5 separate regions of the Homo sapiens genome follow, and all the other regions are linked to region 4. The links come from fine-mapping of genetic effects on gene expression. A gene starts in region 4. Each other region holds a variant in brackets. All regions are shown on one strand. Distances are from middle to middle.

Region 1 (4,495 bases), 170 kb after region 4:
TCCACACTTGCATTCAAAGACACTGAAATAAATTCTTACCAAAACAGTGGCGAAGACCCAGGATTTGCACTGAAACTCACATGCTGTGTTCAGAAGTGCAGTATTCTCTCTACCCCACACAGCTGCCTTAGAGAGATGAATTCCAGGGCTGGGAACCACGGCTAACACTTAGTACCTCCCACATTTCCAGAAGGGCTCTAAACGTGTCCTGTGGTCCTTACAGTCAACTGGTGAGGTTATTTCTTCTGTCATTTCACAGACAAATAAAGAAGCAGAGTAACTTCATTTATGAACGGTGCTCTCTGCCACTTTGCAATGCTTATTCAATAGAGCTGCTTTCATTATGGAAAGCTAAAAGCTTTGTTTCCCAGAATGCTAACCATTTTATAAACAGTATAACATAATTATAAATGTCTTCCAGAAACACAGTAATAGTAATGTTAAATGATCCTGCGAGCCTCAGAAAAATAACTTGATAGCTACTCTCCGAGGTTGGTTATTTTGGAGTCCTAGTACATTAGTCACTCTTCAAAGGCCAGAGAAGGTAAGAGAGAAGGTTAAAATGAGATCAGATGCCCAGCAGTGGGAAATTTCACATTTGAGATGATGAGACCCATAAATGGGGCATAATGATGGCAAATAAAAAATATCTACTTGGAAACAGAGAAAAGCTCAAATTGCATTGAAGATCAGTTACATTTTTCCTGGACAGAGGACAGAAAAATTTTCTTCTTTTTCTTGAGTAAGTGAAAAGGAATATAAGGTCTTTCTCAGGGATGAGGTTTGCCTTTTCTGGATTAAAGGGTAAAAGCTGAAGAGGCACATCTTCAGACAAGTAGCAATAGAGAACAGAGACAATTCTTGGCCATAGAGCATTTTTGAGGATCTCATATGAAAGATAGTCATTTTTTAAAGATGTCATTTTTCTATAATACTGCAGCTAGCTCCCCTCAGATCATCACCGGGATAAGACAGCATCAATGGATATGTTGCCCAGGCTGGTCTCAAAATCCTGGCCTCAAGCAACCTCCCACCTCAGCCTCCCAAATTGCTGGAATGACAGGTGTGAGCCACCACACCTGGCTGCAAGTTGAATTTCTTTGGATGTCTATTCTTTGTGCCTGAAACTTCAGATTGACGTACTTAGAAAATATAGGGCTGAACTGACCCCCATATAACATCTTGACTTTTTCAACCAAACTTTAATTATTTCAACTGAATAATTTAAAAAAAAATTTTACCCTTGGTGACAGCTGTCAAATGATGGAATATCTTGTGTGAATTAGAATCTCTTGATTTTCAGGAATACCATCATAATAACAATGATGTTGTGATTTTTTTAACTTGAGAATGACCTTTGGAATAATTAAAAAATGCCTTGGTATGACTCAATCCTTTTCCTCCCTCTGTCCTCTGAGGCTTTACCACTGACCTGGAATTCAGGATTCCAGAAATCCTTGGTGAATGAAGTCACCACATTCTTTGTGAAATTATTCACAAGTGTGATCATTATCAGTTATCTGTTTCCTTTGATAAGGTTACTCCCAATTGTTTCAATGTGTGACTCTATAGATAAAATCGTATTATAGTTTTGTTATGATTCATATCGCTAGTATGCTGATAGTCTAGATAATAACAGAGTGATGATATTGTTGTGGCTTCTTTATTCCAAGTAATATCAAGCCCCAATAAAAAAGTTTGGTTTTTCTTTTCTGAGACAGGGTCTGGCTCTGTCACCCAGGCTGGAGGGCAGGGGAGTGATCACAGCTCACTGCACCCTCAAACTCCTGGGCTCAGGTAATCCTCCTGCATCAACCCCCCAAGTATCTGAGACCACAGATGCATGCCATACCAGTCGGCTAATTTTTATTTTATTTTTATTTTTCGTAGAGATGGAGCTTCACATGGTTGCCCAGGCTGCTGTAGAACTTCTGGCCTCAAAAGATCTTCCTGCCTCAGTCTCCCAAAGTGCTAGGATTAAAGGTGTGAGCCACTGCACTTGGCCAATAAAAGTTTTGAAGATGTGAATAGGAAATTCACCAGGAGCTTCCTGTTCACCTCCTTGCTTCAAGTTTATGGAAGTCTTGACTTATCCTTGTCCTTGTCACCAACAAGCCTTGTAGCCGCAGCCTCTGCTCAGGGGGACAGTGTTCCCACCCTCTTCACCAGTGAAGCTGCTGAGATCCCAGGGCAGCTGGCTCCTTCCCATGGAAAGATGAACTATGATTCCTCATTTCCCCAATAAATTTACGATTTTGCTGAGAAAACAAATATACATATTTGAGAAATTTAACAGTGCAAGCAGATAGAATATCAGACATCAAAATCTGTATGAAATTTCTCCACCTCGGAGAATGACTGAGTTTTGGCTTCACTCACACTAAATAATGAAAAAAGGGAACAAGCAGTGTAGGTTTCACTCAGG[A/G]TGAAAGCCCTGGAACCCTAGAAGATTGTGGGGATAGGTAATGGATGGATTCAACATGCCTTTCTCTTAGGACTGTCTGAGATCTTACAGCTGAGATTAGCATAAACATCTTTGAAAGACAAATTCTGGTTGTTAGAGAAAACTATGTCATTATTCAGAGGGGACTGTCAGGCACCTCTTTGCTGAAGAGGCCACACAACACAGAGTGGGGGATGCCTCTTGCTAAATAATGTTTCAGCCACATGTGGCAAAGAGTTCAGAGACCTGAGGGAGGTCCAGTGCAGACTGAACTACAAACTTCAGCCTTCACTGTCTTAAGAATAAGTTAGTCTGGGCTGGGCACAGTGGCTCACACCTGTAATCCCAGCATTTAGGGAGACCAAGGTGGACGGATCACCTGAGGTCAGGAGTTCGAGGCCAGCCTGGGCAACATGGTGAAACCCTGTCTCTACTAAAAATACAAAAATTAGCCAGGTGTGGTGGCACACCCCTGTAATCCCAGCTACTTGGGAGGCTGAGGCAGGAGAATCACTTGAACCTGGGAGATGGAGGTTGCAGTGAGCCGAGATCCCGCCACTGCACTCCAGCCTGTGCCATGGAGCAAGACTTCGTCTCAGAAAAAAAAAAAAGAATAAGTTAGCCTTGGCCGGGCTCGGTGACTCTTGCCTGTAATCCCAGAACTTTGGGAGGCCAAGATGGGTGGATTGCTTGAGCTCAGGATCTTGAGACCAGCCTGAGCAATATGGGGAGACTCCGCCTCTACCAAAAAAAAAAAAAAAAAAAAAAATTAGCTGGGCATGGTGACACATGCCTGTAGTCCCAGTTACTCAGGAGGCTGAGGTAGGAGGATCACTTGAGCCCAGGAGGTCAAGCCTGCAGTGAGTTGTGTTCATGCCACTGCGCTCCCGCCTAAGTGACAGACTGAGACTCTGTCTCAGAAACAAAACCAAAAAAAAGGTGGGGGACACTTGCATGGCAGCTCATGCCTGTAATCCCAGCACTTTGGGAGGCCAAGGTGGGCAGATCACTTGAGCTCATGAGTTTAAGACCAGCCTGGGCAATACAGGGAAACCCTATCTCCAAAAAAAAAAATGCAAAAATGACTTGGGTGTGGTGACCCACAGCTGCAGTCCCAGCAACTCAGGAGGCTAAGGTGGGAGGATCGCTTCAGCCTGGGAGGTGGAGGCTGCAGTGAGCTGAGATCGCACCACTGCACTCCAGCCTGGGTGACAGAGTGAGATCCTGTCTCAGAAGGTTAGTCTTAAGAATCCTTTGAATGGATCAGAAAGGGAGAGCCCTTCTCCAGAATTGGATACCGGTGTAACAGGGTGTCAGTGTGCGGAATTTACAAAGAGAATGCCTGGAAACCGGCCCCACAATGCTTAGTCCACTTTAAAAAGGGTCATGAGAGACAGTGAGAGCATTTTGGAGGATTTCTTTGGACAAAGCAGTGCTGATAACTCCAGGCACCCTCCCACCCTCTGACCCTATCCCTGCTTTACTCCCAAGCCCAGGGTTAGGGGAGGGGGCAGAAACTTCTGCGAGCAAAGAGGCTAAAGCTACAGGAGGGAGAGAGAAGTGCTGACCACAACTCTCCCTCTGACCACATGTTCTCCATTATTGCCATCCCCTCCCACCCCAGCAAAGTAAAGATTGAATGCCAAAGCAAACTAATTCAATACATTAATTCAAATGTTCAGTCCTCTGCACCACAACTGCAGCTCAGGAGCATGGCTTCACAATGCGCCTTCCAAGTTGCAGCAGGGATTCTGCAGGATCCTGACTCAAGGTACACATGAAAGCCAGGTGCGGAGGCTCATGCCTCTAATCCCAGCACTCTGGAAGGCTGAGGTGGGTGTATGGCTCCAGCCCAGGAGTTTGAAACCAGCCTGGGCGTTATGGCGAAACCCTGTCTCTACCAAAAATACAAAAATTATCCAGGTGTGTTGGTGCATGCCCATAGTCCTAACTATGGAGGACTGAGGTAAGAGGATGGCTTGAGCCTTGGGAGGCAGAGGTTGCAGTGAGCTGCCACCATGCCCAGCTAATTTTTTGTATTTTTAGTAGAGA
Region 2 (4,992 bases), 210 kb after region 4:
GGGCACTATGTTGTTGTATCTGACTTCATATGTCTGTTGTTGAAATTGAGTTGGGAACTTCCCCTTTGTCAGCTGTGTGGTATCAGTGGGAAAATGCAGAAACATTATGACTTGCAATAAGTTTTTCTTATGGAAAATTTAGGGATAACTCAAAGCTGCCCTTTCTGAAATTTGATCTGTTATCAACTGTATAAATCTAAATGGAAAAATAGATTAACGACAGTCTTTGCCTGAGGGACCTCCTCAAATCAAGAACTACTGTTTGAAATGATCAAGTGTCTGCTAAGACTTGCATCTGAATGGGTGATGTCACCCTTTGGCCCAGAACAAATTTTTTCCAGGGTTGTCTAAATATAGGACACATACTTTGCCATCTTTGTTTGTTAGTGCAAATGTACGTTATACATCTATACTAGTTAAAATCACTTTATTTTAACAGAACCAAGTTCTACTCCAAGTTCAAGAAATTGATTGTTGTTTTCTTTGAAAACATGTTAATGACGTTTTAAAAATACGCTTATTCAAAAATCAAACAATAGGGCCAGGTGTGGTGGCTCATGCCTGTCATCCCAGTGCTTTGGGAAGCCAAGGTGGAGGATCGCTTGAGGCCAAGAATTCAAGATCAACCTGGGGAACATAGCAAGACCCTATCTCGATGAAATAAAAAATGAGCTAGACATGGTGGTGCATGCGTATAGTTCCAGCTACTTGGGAGGCTGAGATGGGAGAATTGCTTCAGCCCAGAGAGCTGTGATCGCACTACTGTACTCCAGCCTGGGCAACAGAATGAGACTCTGTCTAAAAATATACATATATATATATCTCTCTCTTATATGTATATATTTATATATATCACATATATAAATATCAAAAGATATCAAATATATAGATATATAAATATCAAATATATAGAGATATATAAATATCAAATACAGATATATAATATCAAATACATAGAGATATATAAATCAAATATATATATAAATAAAATATATATATATATCAAACAATAAGGTATATAAGGTAGAGTGAAAGCCCCTGGTCACCTTATTTCCCAGAGCTGTCACCACTGATAGTTTAATGAACTCACTTTTTAATATGTGTGTGTGTTTAACATCGCTGGGATCTTACTGTACCTGGGTGCATTTGTTACCATGTATGTTTCGCTGACTCTTATTGTTGTGTGCTGGAACTTTCTGGGGTGATAGTAATCCAGTTGGGCAGTCATCAACACATGGAGCACTTGCATGTGACAAGTGTGACTGAGCTGAATGTTTTTATTTTATTTGAATTAATTTAAATTTAAATAGCTCCATGTGACTAGTGGCTATCATACTGGACAGCTCAGATCATATTCAGTCTTTGAATTTTGTTTATAAGCTTTCTTGGTACTCAAAAATTTCTGTATTTTATTTCCTGTCTTTGGTAGAATATGTCTAGTTTTCATTCTTTTTTTCTTCTGTGGATTATCTGTACACTTTTTTTTTTTTTTTTTTTTTGAGACAAGGTCTCACTCTGTCATCTGGGCTGGAGTGCAGTGGCACAATCTCAGCTCACTACAGCCTTGACCTCCTGGACTCAAGTGATCCTCCCACCTCAGCCTCTCAAGTAGCTAGGACTACAGGCACATGCCACCACACCTGGCTAATTTTTGTATTTTTGTAGAGACAGGGTCTCACTATGTTGTCTAGGCTGGTCTCGAACTCCTGAACTCAAGCAGTTCACCCACCTCCGTCTCCCAAAGTGTTGGGACTACAGGCGTGAGCCACCGTGCCCGGCGATCTGTACATTTTGAACAAGTATGTTTTCATCTATATTTCTTTATCCATATCAAAAAATTAACCACTATTTAAAATATTCTACCATCTCACAAGAAAAATCATGTAGGATATTTTGACTTCTTTTCATTTCCTAGGTTTAATTGAAATAACCTGGAATTGTAATTCTTTTATTTTTGCCCTTGTGTCACTAGAGACTTTTTTCTTAACTATTACATGTTTCACATTCCTGTTAACAAAAACATTTTAGACTTTCCTGACAGCTTTATTGTTTTTATGGGTTTCCATCGTTCTTTATAAAACACATCCTCCCGGCCAGGCGTGGTGGCTCGCACCTGTAATCCCAGCACTTTGGGAGGCCGGGGTGGGCGGATCACCTGAGGTCAGGAGTTCGAGACCAGCCTGGACAACATGGTGAAACCCCATCTCTACTAAAAATACAAAAAAACATTAGCCAGGTGTGGTGGCGGGCGTATGTAATCTCAGCTACTCGGGAGGCTGAGGCAGGCAGGAGAATCACTTGAACCCAGGAGGTGGAGGTTGCAGTGAGTCGAGATTGCACCATTGCACTCCAGCCTGGGCGACAGAGCAAGACTCTGTCTCAAAAAAATAAAAGTAAAAAATAAAACACATCCTGTCTTTTTCTTCTTTAACAGCATTCTCACATGATTTTTTTTCTTAGAGTGCGTGGATGAT[G/A]TATTTTGAGTTCTTGCATGTCTGAAAATGCCATTCTTTTCCCCTCCCACATAATACATAGCCTGGGTGTGCATGTGACTCTATGATAACAATCGTTTTCCTTGAAACTCCATAAACGTTTTAATATCTTCCAGTATTTACTGGTACAGATGTTGTTTTCTTTGTGTTTTTTTTTTTTTTTTTTTTTTTTTTTTTGATTTTTGAGGCAGAGTCTCGCTCTGTCACCCAGGCCAGGCTGGTCTCGAACTCCTGACCTTGACCTCAGGTGATCCACCTGACTCGGTTCCCCAAAGTGCTGGGACTACAGGTGTGAGCCACTGTGCCTGGCCAGATGCTGTTTTCTCTGCTTCTCTGTCTTTTATAGGTAATCTTATTCTTTTTGTCTGTTTTAACTTGTTTTCAGTCTAGAAGCTTCTGGCATTTTTTCCCTGTTGTTCTATTACCAAAGGGTTTCCATGTCCTTTCACATGCTGGGATCGCCTGTCCTTTATTTTTTATTTTTTGCAATGGAGTCTTACTCTGTTGCCCAGGCTGGAGTGCAGTGTCGTCATCTTTGCTCACTGCAACGTCCACCTCCCAGGTTCAAGCGATTCTCCTGCCTCAGCCTCCCAAGTAGGCAGGATTATAGACGCACACTACCATGCCTAGCTAATTTTTGTATTTTTAGTAGAGACGGGGTTTCACCACGTTGGCCGGCTGGTCTCGAACTCCTGACCTCAAGGAATCTCCCCACCTCAGCCTCCCAAAGTGCTGGGATTACAGGTGTGAGCCACTGCACCTGGCACCTTTCCTTTACTATCTAAACAAAATGGCCTGAGCTGATACATGTTCATGGGGGTTTCTTGGGGTCTTAAGTTTTCATGGTCCTCAGGCACACCCACACTGCAGCCAACTTGCCCCATCACCGGGCTCCTTGTGCCTGTGTGTCCTTAGGGTGCTCTTTTTCTTCAACATTTGACCTTGGGTGGAACACGGTTATCTTCAGTTCTGTGTCTCTCACCACCCTCCTCCCAGGAATCACTAAAATCCAGCTATTGTGCACAGCATTTGCTGAAGCGTTTGTGGCTAATGGGGAGGGAGGGAGGTCTGATTACAGAGTAGCGCAGAAAACAACTTTGAATTCAGTGTCAGACATCATTGTTCACCAAGAGGAATTTGTTACTGCTCACGCCTTTCTGTGGGTCATGGCTTCCTCTGCTTCTGAGAGTGTCTCCTGATCTTTCTTCTCCTCTTCTCTAAGTTCAAGGTCAGCCCAAATGTCCTTTCTTTCATGAAGCCTTCCGCAGCCACTATGACCAAAGGCGCTGACCCCTGCCGGAAGCCCTGTAGCTCTTAGTGAGTGTATCTTTCCCGTGACATCTTTCCCAGTTGCTCTCACCTCATCTCCCCAGCCCTCTGCTCGGGAAGACCCTCATTCTCCTGCCCCAAGCTGTGGCTCCTAGAGGTGAGTTCCTTGTCCACAATCACAAATGGGAGATGTGGGTCTTTGCGTCTGTTGCTTAATGTGTGTGTAGCATCTACCAACCAGCTAGAGTAAAAGGTTTTATTTTGCTGGGCGCAGTGGCTCACGCCTGTAATCCCAGCACTTTGGGAGGCCGAGGCGGGTGGATCACCTGAGGTCAGTAGTTCGAGAGCAGCCTGGGCTACATGGTGAAACCCCATCTCTACTGAAAATACAAAAATCAGTCTGGCACGATGGCGGGCACCTGTAATCCCAGCTAATCGGGAGGCTGAGGCAGAATTGCTTGAACCCGAGAGATGGAGATCACTTTATAAGCACATACTGCAGTGAGCCGAGATTGTGCCACTGTACTCCAGTGAGCCTGGGCGACAGTGAGACTCTGTCTCAATAAATAAATAAATAAATAAATAAATAAATATTTTAAGGAGGTTTTATTTAAATATACAATAGGTTATCTGAAAATAAAGTATGGCTGGACTTTATTAGAATTAAACATTATAGAAAGTCAAGTACCCAAGGTCCATCTGTCTTTCTAACCTCTCTCCCTTTCTGTCTCAGTCTCTGTCAACTAGACTGCCCCAAGCATCTGTTCCTTAGTTCAGATTCTCCAGAAAGGATCTCACTGGTTTCTGGCCAAGAAAGGGATTATCCAGGCATGATCCAGTCCACTGTGATGGAGAAGGGAAAGGGAGGGGTAGAAGAGAATTGTGTGGTACAACATGGCCACTGAGGGCCACACCTTTGGTGAGACCTGTGGGCAAAGGGAGTTTTCAGGGAAGGACATAGTGAACAATGCTGGCACCTTGCTGGGACTGAATTGTATCTCCCTGCCAATTCATATGTTGAAGCCTAAATCCCCAACGTGATGGTGTCTGGAGGTGGCACCTTTGGGGGGTAAATAGCTTACAAGGGTGGAGTCCCCATGAATCGGATCAGTGTATGCTTATAAAGAGATAGAGTCCAGTGCTTTGTTGCTCTGCCAAGAATAAGGCCCTCACCAAAAACCTGACCCTGCTGGCACCCTGATCTTGGTGGACTTCCAGCCTCCAGAACTGT
Region 3 (4,992 bases), 120 kb after region 4:
TTCAAAACTTGGATCTGTGATTCCAACTTCGATCTTTCCACGAAATCTCCATTCCCACACCTTTGCCTTCATTAAAAAACAGACGGGTATGAATGATAAAAGGTAGGGTGGCATTAGCTGTGTAGAAATTGCTGTATGAAGGATTTAGCTGTAATTCATTGTTGAGACTCTAAAATTCACTAGGTTTTCTTTAAATGTTTAAATGTAGACCAGATTGGAGGTTTACATCAGCTCAGTTTGGTAGGTAGGTAAGTATATAAGTAGCTGAATAAAAAGTCCTATAGATTGTATTTTAATGCAGCTTAAATTTTTTATCGCTGTGTTTTTGTCATTGTGCTCAAAGAAATATGTAAAATTATGACAACACAGTTTGTGCGATATTGTATTTCACTAGAGGAAAATGTAAAATGGATTGCTTGAGTGCATAAATATATCGGTCTCATAAGCATTCTCTAATTTATCTGTAGGCAGTCATTAAAGCTTTGGCTTGGACCAAAGGCCTTTAATGGAAAATAATTGGTATACTGAGGTCCTTTTAAACAGATCAAAATAACAATGGCAATTAAAATAACTCATAAATATTTCAAGTCCAGTCCTCAATAGCATACTTTTTAGCAGAAGTTAATATTTTTGAAGCAATCCTTGAAGAAATTTGCTATGTTAAAAAAAAAGCAGCCTCTGCTCTAAAACATTTGGTTTTATTAAGGTTATCTGCCAAGTAATTAACATGTGCATGGGGCTCACTTTGTGTAAAAGTTATTTCCGGTGATTTCCACTTACACCTTTGTCTCACATTATAGAAAAATCCTTCTCTTTTGAGATCGTTTTTGAAAGCAAAACACAATAATGAAAAATAGCAAGCCTGACCGGGCACAGTGGCTTAAGTCTATAATCCCAGCACAGGCCTGGGATTGCCAAGGCAGGCAGATCACCTGAGGTCAGGAGTTTGAGACCAGCCTGGCCAATATGGCAAAACCCCATCTTCACTAAAAATACAAAAATTATCCATCAGGGTAGTGGAAGCCTGTAATACCGGCTACTTGGGAGGCTGAGGCAGGAGGATCGCTTGAACCCAGGAGGTGGAGGTTACAGTGAGCTGAGATTGTGCCATCGCACTCCAGCCTGGGCAACGGAATGAGACTTCATCTCAAAAAAAAAAAAAAAAGAAAAAAGAAAACCTGAGCCTAGATTCCAGCTCAGCCCATACTGAGTGTATGCCCTTAGGCCACCTACCATTACTACTCTCTCTGAGCCTGTTTCTTTGTGTGTAAAAATGACGATTTTACCTGCCTTACTGGGTTGTGGTGAGGATTATGTATGTAAAGTGCTTCATGCAGTCCCTGGCATATAGGAGGTAATGGTAGCTGCGACTATTTTTTTGCAAAGGTTTCCACAGCCCCACATGGGTACTTTGCATGCAAATGATGGAAAATGCCTCTTCCTTCTAGGAAACAGCACCAGGCATGACCTGACCCCAGTCACAGCCGTCAGCGTCCACTTGCTGAGCAGTAATGGAACGCCGGTGCTGGTGGATGGTCCCATCTATGTCACTGTGCCCCTGGCCACGCAGAGCAGCCTGAGGCACAATGCCTATGTCGCGGCGTGGCGGTTTGACCAGAAGCTGGGTAAGCAAGAGTTCTGTGCCGACAATCGGCTACCAGATGGCTTCGTTACTGTTTGGTTTTCCTTCTAAGAAGCTCATGGAAGTCTCCTTTCCTTGAAGTCAGTGAATGCTGCTGCTCACATTGCATTGTGTGGTTTCTCATGGGGACGGCACCCTTCCCCGTGCCATTCAGACCCTCTCTTGGGAACTCATTTTTTGTTAGTTTTCATATTTGTTTTTGTTTTGCACATTTAACCTAATTTACTTGAAAAGAATCTGTAAAGGTTATTAGAGCTAAAACTGGCTCTCCTAATCTTCATCCTTTTATTCATCAGAAGGTCATATGGTTGCTCTTGGTCATGTGTGGTATTTTTTTTTTCTGTTTTCTGAAAAAGGACAAACATTTGCCAAAACTGTACAAAACAAAGAAAATAAAAATTACCCATAAGTCTCACCACCTAGAGAAAACCACTAATATATCTTGAATTCTGTCCTTCTAGGGCTTTCACAGTGCACGTAGGTATTAGTTATCAACTGCTGTGTAACACCACCCTAAAAGTTAGCTGCTTAAAACAACAGTGAGCTCCAGTATCTCAGAGTTTCTGGGGGTCAGGAATCCAGGTACAGCCGAGCTGGGTGGTAGGGCTCAGAGTCTCTTACAAGGCGGCTGTCAAGCTGTGAGTCAAGGCTGTGGTCCTCTCCAGCAGTGTTCAGCTGGGGCTAATGAGTGTGACTCACAGGGCTGAAGGCAGACCTCACTTCCTTGCCGGCTGTTGACCAGAGGCCTTACCTCCTTACCACGTGGGACCCTCCATAGAGCTGCTTACTACACGGTAGTTTGCTTTCCCCTGAGCAAATGATCCAAGAGTAAATAAAAATGATATAGTAGGCTGGGTGTGGTGGCTGACACCTGTAATCCCAGCACTTTGGGAGGCTGAGGCGGGTGGTTCACTTGAGGCCAAGAGTCTGAGACCAGCCTTTTAAAAGCCCAAGTGCCCAGATTGAGGTCATGGTCTTTTGTAACCTAATCCCAAAAGCAGCATACCATCATTTCTTTCCATTAGGCTGTTGGTCACACAGACCCACACTGGTATAGACCAGCACTGAGAGTAGACTATACAGGGGAGTGAATACCAGGAGGCAGGGGTCACTTGGGGCTGGCTATCTGAGAGG[T/C]TGCCTTCTACAAAGCATATTTAGCAGAAATGAGATCATGTGCTGGGTACTGTTTGGGTGCAGTGGCTCACACCTGAAATCCCAACACTTTGGGAGGCTGAGGCGGGAGGATTGCTTGAGCCCAGGAATTCAAAGTCACAGTGAGTGATGTCGCTATGATCGAGCCACTGCACCTCCTAGGCAACAGAACGAGACCACTCACTCACTCAATCAACCAATAATATATACATAAAAATACATTTGTACAGCATGAACATCTTTCCATAGCATCATTATTCTGCCATGTCAATTTTAATAAGTCCATAGTATTCCACCCTGTGGATATATCATACTTCACTTTGGTTCATCAATCCCCTGCAATTAGAAAAAAATGTTACTATTCTAACCAATGCTGTAGAAAATATCTTTCTAGCTAAATCTTTATGCACAGCCTTGGTTATTTCCTTAGGATGACATTTTAGAAGAATTGCTGAGTTACAAAATGTACAAAATTCTAAAACTTTTAAAACATATTTCCAGATTTCCCTCCAGACAGTTGTATTGGTTTGCACTCATGATACCAGCCCACGAGCATGTGCTCGGGCTGAGGGTCTTGGCAGCGTGGGGCCTCTTACCCCCCTTTGCTTCCTAGTGCCCTGAAAGTCAAGCTTGAAAATATCAATTTGCTGCTGGGCACGGTGGCTCACACCTATAATCCCAGCACTTTGGGAGGCAAGGCGGGCAGATCACTTGTGGTCAGGAGTTTGAGACCAACCTGGCCAACATGGTGAAACCCTATCTCTACTAAAAATACAAAAAATTAGCCAGCTGTGGTGGTACATGTCCATAGTCCCAGCTACTTGGGAGGCTAAGTTGGGAGGATCCCTTGAACCTGGGAGGCAGAGGTTGCAGTGAGCCAAGATCGCATCACTGCACTCCAGCCTGGATGACAGAGCAAGACTGTCTCGAAAAAAGAAAATACCAGTTTTCAAATAAGCCAGTTCAGAATTTAAAACTGTTAGACCATGCATGAAGATAATTGGGAGATTTTTGATATCAGTATATTTTCAAAGATATCTAATTCCTCGAATCAGTTAAAACAGAGTTCTAGGAATTATATTTTAAAAGAAACGCCTGTTGGGCTTTTGGAGGGGATTTTTGTTTTGTCTTATTTTTACTTTCCAAATAATTAATAGAGACACTGTAATTATTTGTGTGGAATGCATTGATTTTACCAGCCACAGTAAACTTGATATTGTTAAGTGGATTGTGATGCTGTCTGTTCACATATCCTGCAGTAAGCAAGACGGGCACTTCATTGATGGTGTGTGTTCTCTGAGAGCCTGATAATCTGTTCACATATCCTGCAGTAAGCGAGACGGGCACTTTATTGATGGTGTGTGTTCTCTGTGAGCCTGATAATTTGGGGGGCATCAAGGTCATGGTGGGGACCTGAGGTACACTGTGCCTCCAGGAGGGAGTAGCCTGAGGGATGTGTGACCAAGAGTCTCTGAAGAATGCCGGAATTCTAAAGGGAGGAAGAAAATGGATAAAGAAAAACACAGAGGAAGTGGGCAAGAGAATGGAAAGAGCTTTGAGTTTGTGTTTTGTTTCCTGAAAACCTGGGTTCTGCTACTTATAAAACTGTGAGTCCCACCTTGGGCAAATTACTTACCTCTATTTGCATTTGTAAGAGATATGAATATACACCCCCTTGTATGGTCTGCCTGTCCCCTGTAGCCCTCCCAGGGGGCGCTGAAGCGCACCCAGGTCAATGCACTGAGAAGCAGCGGAGAGTGTGGTTAAGAGCAGGGAGTCTGGGGGGCACAGTGGTGTGGAATGCCAGCTCTGCCACCCACTGGCTGTGTGGCCCTGGCCAAGTTACTTAGCCTTTCTGATCTAGTTTCTTCCACTGTGAAATGGCAATAATAATAGTACCCACTGTTGTTATAATGAGTGTATTAGGATTCTCTAAAGAAACAGAGCCAATAGGAGATATATGTATATTTGGAGAGATTGATTTTAAGGAATGGCTCACACAATTGGGAAGGCTGGCAAGTCCAAAATTGCAAGGCAGGCTGATGAGATGAGGCCCTCCCTCACTGTGGAGAGTGATCTGCTTCACTCAAAGTCAACAGATTGGGCCGGGCACCATGGCTCATGCCTGTAATACCAGCACTTTGGGAGGCCAAGACAGGCAGATCACCTGAGGTCAAGAGTTTGAGACCAGCCTAGCC
Region 4 (4,992 bases):
TTTCTTCCACCCTGAAACATTCTGGAACTCTATACTAAGATCACAAACACCAGTGTTTTGAGTGAACAATAAGACTTAGAAAAATGGCATAGAATGGGATTTTTTTTCTATTTTAAATATTTCCATCTGAAATAATTATAGACTCATAAAAAGTTACAAAAATAGTACAGAGAGGTCACATCTATCCTTCTCCCAGCTTCCCCCAATTGTAACATCTTATATAACTGTAGTACACTGTCAATGCCAGGAAATGAACATTGGCACCATAGTATTCACTAGATTTGCACTTCACTGGGATTAGAGCAGGTTCAAACAATTTGGACACTCCTGGAGGTAATTTGAATCATTTGCATAAAATTTATTCTCAGAAGTAACATGGTATAGGGAATTTACACTTATCAGATCTTTGTATTGTGGGCAAGTTGTTTAATGGCACCAAGCCTCGGTTTGTTCATCTGTGAAATGGAAACAATGATACCTACCAAATAAGTTGTTATGAGGAAATAGCTCCAGTTCAGTGAGTGCCATATATTAGGAACTTTGATGCCATATATTAGGCTTAGATGCAGGAATCAGAAGAAGGAGGGAATCCAGCAGTCCCTATTTCTTTCTGCCTTCCTGACTACCTGCCACCCTGTGCAGGTGCGTGATTTGCGCAAATTGCAGCATTGGTCCTAAGGGTGACTATAAAACCCATATGGGCTTCTGTACGTCCTAGTTTTTCTCATGTCTCACAGTCATTTGTCTTTTATAAGCCAACTGGGCAAGTGCCATCCTTCATTCTTTTTTTGGTACGGTGCCTGCCATGTCTAAATGCTCAATTAATGAAATTACAGTAATAACCCTCCTTCTGGCCTGGTGTTCTGGAAGCAGTGTGGGGTGGATGATGGGTCTGGAGTGGATTTTCCTAGGTCCCCAGTGGAAGTCGGAAGGTCACCGCAGTGCTAGTTGGAAGAGAAGGTGGAGAGGGACAAGTGGAGGTGAAGGTTGTGTGGAAGGCATACCGACAGGAGTGGGTTGAGAGAAAGAAAAGTTGAGGTTGGAATGGAGGGGGTCCCTAGGCTCAAGGAAAGTCTAGAGGTTTGGTTTTGTTTTGTGTGTGGTTTTTTTGGTGGTTTTATTTTTTGATTTTTTTTTTTTTTTTTTTTTGAGACGGGGTCTCAGTCTGTCATCCAGGCTGGAGTGCAGTGGCACGATCTTGGCTCACTGCAACCTCCCCACTCCCAGGTTCAAGCGATCCTCCCACCTCAGCCTCCTGAGTAGTTGGGACCACAGGCATGGGCCACTATGCCTGGTTAATTTTTTTGTATTTTTGGTAGAGACAGGGTTTCACCATGTTGGCCCAGCTGGTCTCTTAACTCCTGAACTCAGGCCATCCACCTACCTCAGCCTCCCAAAGTGTTGGGATTATAGGCATGAACCATCACACCCAGCCAAGTCTGGAGGTTTTTGTGAAGAGTTTCAATTTTGGGGTCAGACTGACTGTTTTATTAGAATTTTGGCTCTGCCACTGACCAGGTATGCACTTTTGGACAAATTCCTTAACCCTCTTTAGCCTCTTTTCTCATCTGTGAATGGGGGGGATAATGCTAACTACCTCTTAGATCATGTATTGTGAAGATGGACAAAGAGTCTCTGCTTGACCGAACTACAGTCAGGCTCCGGAACCTTCTTCTAGGCTCAGTTGTGCCCTTCCTTGTAAAATCTGCTTTCAGGAAGAACCCTGCTAAGTCAGTTTACCAAGAACCCTCCACCCTGGATATCTGATCAGCTTCCCCATCCGCCCTGTCCTGCCCAGCCCTGCCAGGGGATGTCTGACTTTCAAGAATCCCCCTTCCCCCTGATGTTTCCTCTTATAATTTTTCATTCCCTGCATCCCACCCTGGTCCTCGGTTATAAATCCCCACTTGTTCCTGCTGTATTCAGAGTTGAACCCAACCTTTCTCCCCGACTGCAGAATCCCATGGTAGGGCTTATACCTATTGCGATGGTTCCAAAGAGGGTCTTCTTTGCTGTGCTTTCACACGTGTCATGGAATAGTCTTTTTTCTTTAATAGGACAGAAAGTTTTAAAGCACCTAGGGCCTCAAAAGATGTGGATTTCCTCCCCACCCTAACCCCTAGAACCATCCAAGTACCATTCCTCCTGAAGCTGTCCACCCGCCAACACGTAGGTACTGCAGGCCTACTGCAGTCTATACTGGCTTGGGGAGTGTTTTTGCGGATCTTTAACACTGGGTGTGAAATCTACGTTGGGGGACACAACTACATTAGGATGGCACCTGGTGGGGGGGTCACACCCAGATACAATGTCTCCTGCGGCCCCTTGGGTGACCTGGTGTGATGAAAAGGGCTCCGCCCTGAAAGGCAGGTCTGGCTCTTCTGCGGGGCTGCGGGGATGGGGCGCGCCGGGGCAGTGTCGCCGGGGGTCGGGCTGGGGGCGCGACGCAGCGGCGCCGGGCGGGGGCGCCCTCGGCGCCGCAGCCGCCAGGTGGCACCACGGGCCCGGGGCCTGGGCGCGGGCAGCGGCGGCGGCGGCGGGCGAGGCAGGAAGGGGTTAAGGAGCTGGCGGAGCAGCAGCAGCCGCCGCCGCCGCCGCCGCCGCGGCTCTTCGGGGAAACCCGGCGCGGGGCGCGGGAGGGAGCGGCCGGGGCGGCGGGGCCGGGCCAATCGGGCGGCGGGCCCGGCGCGCGGAGCCAGCGACATGGAGGGGGGCGCGGCGCCCGGCCGCCCGTGACGCGCCGCCGCCCGGCCCGCTCTCGGCGAGCCCGAGCCGCCGCCGGCCCCGCGGCGGAGATGAGCAGGTCCGCGACGCTGCTGCTGTGCCTGCTGGGCTGCCACGTCTGGAAGGCGGTGACCAAGACGCTGCGGGAGCCCGGCGCCGGAGCCCAAGGTCAGTGGGCGGCGGCGGGGCCGGGGGCTTTGTGTCGCGCCGGGCCTGGCGCGGAGGCGGCGGCGGCGGCGGCGGCGGCGGGAGGGTCCCGGGCCGCGTGGTGGCGACGCAGCCCGAGCCGCATCGGGAGCCTCCGGGCCTGCAGCACCCGCAACGCGCTCCCGAGGGGGCGGCGCGGGCCGGCGACGCGGGGTGACCCGGGCGGAGGCTTCGGGGGCCGGGGATCGGGGGCTGGGTCGGGCGGGGGCGCGGGCAGCTCCAGCTGCTGTCGCCGCTGCGGCGGGGGCTCGTCTGGATGCGCCCGGGGGTCCCCTTTATGCCGCGCCTCGGACACGCGGCTCTGTCTCCCATGTCGCCGCGGACAGAGGGGCCGCCCAGGGCGCGCCGCCCGATCGCGCTCCCGGCTCCCCACGCCGGGCTCGGGTCTGGGAAGTCCCAGCTCCTGGGCTGCGCTGGGGCCTTTTGTTGTGGCGGGAGGGGGTGGCTGACGCCCCGGGGTGCCCCCTGTGTCCCGGGGCCCCGAGGTCCGCTGCCGCCACTAGCCACTAGCCTGCCGCAGTTTGGGAAAGTTTGGGGGGTTCTCTCCCCCTGCCTATCTGACGTCTCTTCCAGACCATAAGGGATTTGCTCAGCGGCCCATGAGTCTTCTCTGTAAGGGAAGAAAGAATTGAACTGGGAGGCCCTCATCGCTCACCAAAAAAAAAAAAAAAAAAAAGAAAAATCCTTTCCAGATCAGTTTGTCGCCAGCTCGTGCCTTTTGTCTCGTCTTTGGCCTCCACAAATCTGCTTTCCAGCCCTGGGAGTAACGTGGTCGCCTCTGAGAATGGCCACGAGCCTGTCTTTTGTTTTTAAAATCAGCGTTTTTTGAGGGGAGTCCCCCACACCCACCCTGAGGCTTGCTTGGCACATTTTTGTGGGGACAGCGTCGAGGACTCCTCTGTTGCTGGCGTTTTCAAAAGGGCCACTGAGGCCCGCAGATGAGCCTCTGCATTCACCCAGGGCACCGCTGCCTGGACTCTTGCCGGGGGCTCAGGTCTCTGCGAGGGAGCTCCCTGCAGCCCTGCAGAACCCCGGGATTCCGAGCCCGAGGCCTGTCCCCTCAGAAGGGTGTGTGTCCTGCAAAGTTGGCCCTGCAGGCCAAAGAAACGAGGAGTGCTGCATCCGAGGGTCTCCTTGCTGGAACCCCCTTTCCTCGGCTAACATGCTCAGGGTGCCTGGGAGCAGAGACGCCCGGGCTTCCACCACGATGTTGCTACGGGGAGGAAAGGCTCTGCCAACACTCTGTTGGGTTGAGTTTGTTGCCTACATGTTGAGTTGAAGGTTTTCATATTCTGGCACTTGCAGTATCATTTCCTGGTATATCTTAAATGCATTGCTGCTTCTATGGCCATGGTAGAATATGACCGTTATGAATTGTGTATAATTTTAGTAATGCATATCATGGAAGAGCGGACAGCTACAAAATACAAAAAGACCTATATGTCTCTTCGTGTAGGAAACGAATGTTTAGGACATTAGATCATCAGTGTTGCATTGCAGCTTCTTTTATTAATACCCTACTGCTTTTTTGAATCAGCTATTTTAGAGAATGATATTTGCACTTCAGCGAGGCCGTTAATTTTAAAGAGCAAGTTGAATTTTTCCTTTTGCACTTGAAATACCAATATATGGAAATATTAAATTCATGCACTTCTGAATTAGAGAAAGGAAGGCATGTCTTCAATATATATATATATATATATTCAATATATATATAACAGGTTTAGGTCTAAGACCACGTTTTACCCAGCTCTTGCTGCTAAAAATCCGCCTCTCAGGAATGGAATATTATGCGAAATGGGAGGGAAATGGTCAACATGAGAAGAGGTTTCTGCCATGGCTAGCAGTGGCTTAGTTTAGGGTATGGTTGGAGTGGGAGATCAAGTATCTTGGCATAGTTTACCCCTTGGATTACTTCCTTTGTTGTTATCTACTGTAAGGATGGCTTTTTAAAGCCTTGAGCCCAGGAACTCTTTCAGAAATCAGGTCTCACTACCTGGCATTTGGATTTTGAGCTAGCAGCATTTTTAAGGGAATGGACAATTTCTCCTTTGACATTAG
Region 5 (4,992 bases), 120 kb after region 4:
CCCCTGGAGAAGTCTACCTGCTAGTTTTTAAAAGGAAGAGGGAGCATTGTGACTCCCTGCCAGTTAGGCAGTGTGTAGCCAAGACAGGCTGCCCCCGACATAAGTCCTTTGGACCTCAGTGACTTCACCTTTAAGAAGAGAGACTTGGGCTAGTGGATTCTTGGAGCTCTAAAACTCCCTTTTTCTAGAACACGTCTAGACAGGCTTCTTCACTCCTTACAAGTTCTTTGATCCAGAGTTAAAAGGAACCCTGGAGTGGAGATAAAGCCCACCAGCTCCGTGCAGAGCTGTTGAAGCAGGACAGCAGGGGGCCGGGAGAAGGAACCCTCAGCAAAGCACAGGTGGAATGTGGTCTGCCTCAAGCCTGGGGTTGGATCTACAGTTTTTCTCTTAACAATGCTTTTGCCAGGTTTGCACAAAATTACCTAGCACCTTTACGTCTGGTGAATATCACCGCAGCATTAGGTAAAAACCAGTTCAGGTTTTATGATCAAAACAACATCTGGGCCAGGCGCGGTGGCTCACACCTGTAATCCCAACACTTTGGGAGGCTGAGGCGGGTGGATCACCTGAGGTCAGGAGTTCAAGACCAGCCTGGCCAACATGGTGAAACCCTGCCTCTACTAAAAATACAAAAATTAGCTGGGTGTGGTGGCGGGCACCTGTAATCCCAGCTACTTGGGAGACTGAGGCAGGGGAATCGCTTGAACGGGAGGCAGAGGTTGCAGGGAGTTGAGATCACACCGCTGCACTCCAGCCTGGGCGACAAGAGCAAAACTCCATCTCAAAAAAAAAAAAGAAGAAGAAAAGAAAAAGAAAATTTGGAGCAAAGTTAAGCTGCAGAGGACGGCACAACCAACTGTCTAGGGCCTGTCAGCCCAACCTGTCCTCCTACACAAAGGAGTTGAGTTTGGTGAAGAAGCATCATTTTGCATCATTTCAAAAGTCTCATCCTAAATTCTGTGACATAATCCATCACAAGTAGGAAGCACGCCTCCAGAATAGACTGGATGATGACAAATGGCAGCTCCCACAGAAAGAGAAGATTCATTGCCGCTGGGGTATTGTTTGCAATTCTTTTCAAGGTTGCACTGTTAATTCCCTTGCCCTCCTTCAATTTGGTTCATGGCATTAAACCAGATTTTTCCAGGGAGATTAAAGACGGGTTTGCAGCGGTATCAAAGAGTATCTCTTACATTGTTTGAGTAAAGAGATTAATAGTCATCTACTTGTTTCATTTACATGGAGTTTCCCAAAATGCTACCCAGATCCACAGGCAAATGCTGGGCAGTGACAAGACTGCTTGCACATGGAACTTGGAAAAAGCTTTTTGTTAAAAACCTAAATAACATCCTGTGTCAAAACAAATGTGACAATGGGCTATTATTTCTCTCCCCATAATAGCATGTTGTCACATCTCTGTGTCCTGCATGAATGGGGGAAGGGAGGCCTTGTGAGAGGGAGCAGGGTGGGGGAGGCGTGCTGAAACCTTAGAGAGGCACTTCCTGGTTTTGCATTTTCTAAAAACAGAAACTGCTCCTGGGGGAGATAACTCGGAGGTTAATCTCTGCAGGTGCCCGGCCACAGCCTCGCGTTCATTTCCAGAGAAGGGCTCTGAGGTTGCCTGAGAACACCAGCTACAGTGACCTGACCGCGTTTCTCACGGCCGCCAGCTCCCCTTCGGAGGTGGACAGTTTTCCTTATTTGCGAGGATTAGACGGAAATGGAACAGGTAATTGGAGTCTTTTCTCTTTTCAGTGGGAGTTACTGTGTTTTAGTCTTTACATGTGGATTTTAGGTATGATTGGGAGTTTTAGCACTATGTGGGAGAAAGGCACTGAAGGTGCAGAAGGGGAATTCTTGGTACAAGTTCAAGTGCTTTGAAACTGTGTTACGTCGGTACGAGCCCTGCAGAATTACATGTTAGCACATTGGTCTCCTTGAGCTTTTCTTCTGTTACCAGTTGCCTTAAGCACCTTCTCTGAGCTCTCCTTTGGTGGACTAAATATATTCAATTCAGAGAAATTCTTATTGAAATTGCAATTTTTTTAAGTATAAGATTAGACTTAGGGTTTTTGGCCCAGCTGCCCTCTGCCTCGTCCCACGAGCCCCCATTTGAGAGGGTAGCCTGTGGGTGGGTGGGGCTGGTAGAGACTTACCACCCCACCCACCTATGCTGCAGCCAGGAGGGGAAGAGGTGGTGCTTGGTCCAACTCAGAGACAGGCATACCTTGGCTCCATGCCCCACCGGCATGGGGACCACTTAGGATGGGGAGCCTCCGCCCTCTGCCATCTGTGTCCACCCAGCTCTTTCCCACATCGTTTCTTTCTCTGCACTTGCTCTCTCTGTCCTCAACTGGGCATAGAGTGGCCAGGCTTTGAATTTGCTTTAGAATCCGCCCTCTCCTGGCAGGTCTCTAAGTCAGCTGGGTCAGTACCACTATTCTGGCATGCCACAGCTAAAAGATCAGAGAAACTAAAAGCCATCCACCAGAAAATAAGTGATAATTCCTTATCAGAGAAAGACCCAAGACGGGTACCTTCCACCTCTGTTTGTGTCCAACTGCACCATTCTCTGGACCCCTTTGCACTGGAATGGTCCCCACTCCTCCTGGTGGAAGAGGTGTCAGGATTCTGGAGTCCTGAATTATTTTCTTGTCTACCCCACTTTCCTTTCCCCCACACTTTAAACTAATCACAGCATTAAAATTTTAAATCAAAGGCTGTTCTGAGTTGCATTCTGCTAGGAGAGTAACTCACTGCATTTCCCAGGGATACTTGGCTTGAATTTCACTTAATTTTCCAGTGCTTTACATAAACTGATTATTCTGAAAAAGCTTTTAAACCTGAAACATTTGATCC[A/G]TTTTGTAGCATATTAATAAGTTTCTGGTTATACATAAAGGCAACATGGTGATTTGTTACTCATTTTTCTTCTCTCTGTTTTCCAAAACGTTTCTTCTTTAATTTTTGTGTGCTGATGAGGATGTGATTAACTTGTCAGTAAATATGTCAGTACTTGGTCATCAGAAAGATGGCATAGCAGTCATCTTAAGTAAACATTATTAGGAAAAAAAAATGTTGACTATTACTTGAAATGTGCCGGTCTGGGAGAAAAGTCTTGTTTTGGGGAGCATGAAGAAGTGGTTTAAGGCTGGGTGCGGTGGCTCATGCCTGTAATCCCAGCACTTTGGGAGGCCGAGGTGGGTGGATCATTTGAGGTCAGAAGTTTGAGACCAGCCTGGCCAACATGATGAAATGCTGCGTCTACTAAAAATACAAAAATTAGCTGGGTGTGGTGGCAGGTGCCTGTAGTTCTAGCTACTCAGGAAGCTGAGGCAGGAGAATCGCTTGAACCCAGAAGGTGGAGGTTGCAGTGAGCCAAGATCGTGCCACTGCACTCCAGCCTGAGCAACAGATCTAAACTCTGTCTCAAAAAAAAACAAAAAAACAAAGTTTTAAAATATCATAGCCAGCATCCAGCCTCCCGGACAAAATGGTGCACGATCCACAAAACCCTAACTTGGAGGGACAGCCTCCGTGCTCGGGACTCATTAAATTTTTCTGTGCCCCACTTCCAGTAGCTCTTGAATAAATTATGCAGTCTGAGAAAATGGGGGAAAACGAACACTAAGACACAGAACTATTGATTTTAGAGGAGTTTGTCCTATTTTAAGATCATTCCGTGATTTCAAAGGGAAGAGAGGTCTTTGCAATGTGACATGAAATTTCTCTTCCACGGAAAGAATGGATGACTTGACCTAGAAATGACTAGGCTTTCTTGGAGACCTAGCAGCGAAGGCATCCACCCATAGTGAATTCACACGCGCCCTCGGGGACTTGGAACCTGGGCTCCCTTGAGCACAGACACCTCAGTAACTCACCAGCTCCATGGCGGCCCCTGGGGTCAGTTTGCACACAGCTTGTCTTTTGCCCACAGTCACTCATCTCCTGTTTTACTAAAGGCATCTAAGAGCTCACAGCCTAAAGAGAGCACGCCTGGACCAGACGTGTCTTTGGAAGATGACACAAGTTCATCTCCCGAAGACGCAGAAAATGACTAGCGTCATAACCAGAGTTCAGTGAAGGTGGATGGAAACAGAGAGGCTGCGGAAGAGACTGGAAAGGGCTCCGAAAGGCTGTTTTCTGGGGGTACCATGAAGGTTGTGTTGTTTGGTTTAGAGGGTGGATCCAGAGTTGTAAGTAAGTGGAGAAGCATCTTCTCTTTCTAGCTCTTGGGGGCCCCCTCCTCTCACCGGAGAGCATCGCACTCTTCCCCCAGCTGCTGAGAAAGCACAGAATGTTCCGTGGTGTTCCCAAGGGGTTTTTACAAAAATTGCTTTCACTAATAACTCCAGGAAGACAGAGAAGAGTCAATAAAATGACAGGTGCAGACTTTTCCTGCAATTCCAAAAAGTTGGTAGAATACAGAGCCCAACAGAACCTTAGATGTCAGCTGAGCAGAACCTGTCACGTGACGAGTGACCAGGTAGATGGCCCAAGGTGATACAGCTCCTCTCCTCGCTTGGGCCAGTGGTGTTCTGCCCCGCAACACGATCCTGCTGCATTTGCCTGACACCTGCTTGTCTTTGTGCAGACTTAAAGGGAGCCAGGCAACATCCAGATGGAACGGGAAGGATGACCACTTTCTATATAAAACTCAGTATTTTGTGTAAAATTGGAGTTTCATAACAAAGAGAAGGAAAATAGTTTAGCCCTTCAAAATGTGAATTGTTGCAGAATAGGCCAGGCGCGATGGCTCACACCTGTAATCCCAGCACTTTGGGAGGCCGAGGCGGGTGGATCACTGGGAGGGAGGTCAGGAGTTCAAGACCAGCCTGACCAACCTCATCTCTACTAAAAATACAAAAACAAAGAAAAAAAAATTAGCAAGGAGTGGTGGTGTGTGCCTGTTGTCCCAGCTACTCAGGAGGCTGAGGCAGGAAAATTGCTTGAACTGAGAAGGCAGAGGCTGCAGTGAGCCAAGATTGCACC

Direction of the effects. Positions count from the first base shown, and alleles are read on the strand shown. Sizes are in standard deviations (SD) of each study's normalised expression. Not every link is listed here.
For the expression in NK cells of the gene that starts at base 2,559 in region 4, allele C in region 3 goes with a higher level than allele T (moderate effect, 0.72 SD a copy in Gilchrist 2021).

What was found. PIP is the estimated chance that this variant, and not a neighbour inherited with it, causes the effect. A credible set is the group of variants that fine-mapping cannot tell apart.
Region 1: its variant is the best candidate, but not a certain one, in a credible set for the expression of FAM171A1 in whole blood (INTERVAL, PIP 0.79).
Region 2: its variant is the best candidate, but not a certain one, in a credible set for the expression of FAM171A1 in blood mononuclear cells (TOPMed, PIP 0.54).
Region 3: its variant is the best candidate, but not a certain one, in a credible set for the expression of FAM171A1 in NK cells (Gilchrist 2021, PIP 0.53).
Region 5: its variant is the best candidate, but not a certain one, in a credible set for the expression of FAM171A1 in blood mononuclear cells (TOPMed, PIP 0.85).

What each region holds. Positions count from the first base shown.
Region 1 is chr10:15,197,855-15,202,349 of GRCh38, reverse strand. All of the region lies in intron 1 of LOC105376434 (a long non-coding RNA gene), which reads left to right. Among named protein-coding and RNA genes, the nearest start is that of FAM171A1-AS1, 8.5 kb to the left of the region's middle. RefSeq lists an enhancer at 781-1,980. The variant A/G (reference allele first, on the strand shown) is at 2,426.
Region 2 is chr10:15,158,759-15,163,750 of GRCh38, reverse strand. The region is part of intron 1 of NMT2 (N-myristoyltransferase 2); the gene reads left to right. Among named protein-coding and RNA genes, the nearest start is that of NMT2, 7.4 kb to the left of the region's middle. The variant G/A (reference allele first, on the strand shown) is at 2,475.
Region 3 is chr10:15,245,272-15,250,263 of GRCh38, reverse strand. FAM171A1 (family with sequence similarity 171 member A1) reads left to right here. Exons shown (of 8, transcript NM_001010924.2): 5 at 1,449-1,625. Among named protein-coding and RNA genes, the nearest start is that of FAM171A1-AS1, 39 kb to the right of the region's middle. RefSeq lists an enhancer at 1,533-2,034. The variant T/C (reference allele first, on the strand shown) is at 2,777.
Region 4 is chr10:15,368,856-15,373,847 of GRCh38, reverse strand. It overlaps FAM171A1 (family with sequence similarity 171 member A1), which reads left to right and starts at 2,559. Exons shown (of 8, transcript NM_001010924.2): 1 at 2,559-2,892. The coding sequence starts at 2,796. RefSeq lists silencers at 2,513-2,562, 2,573-2,802.
Region 5 is chr10:15,251,461-15,256,452 of GRCh38, reverse strand. It overlaps FAM171A1 (family with sequence similarity 171 member A1), which reads left to right. Exons shown (of 8, transcript NM_001010924.2): 4 at 1,574-1,732. Among named protein-coding and RNA genes, the nearest start is that of FAM171A1-AS1, 45 kb to the right of the region's middle. RefSeq lists an enhancer at 96-739. The variant A/G (reference allele first, on the strand shown) is at 2,863.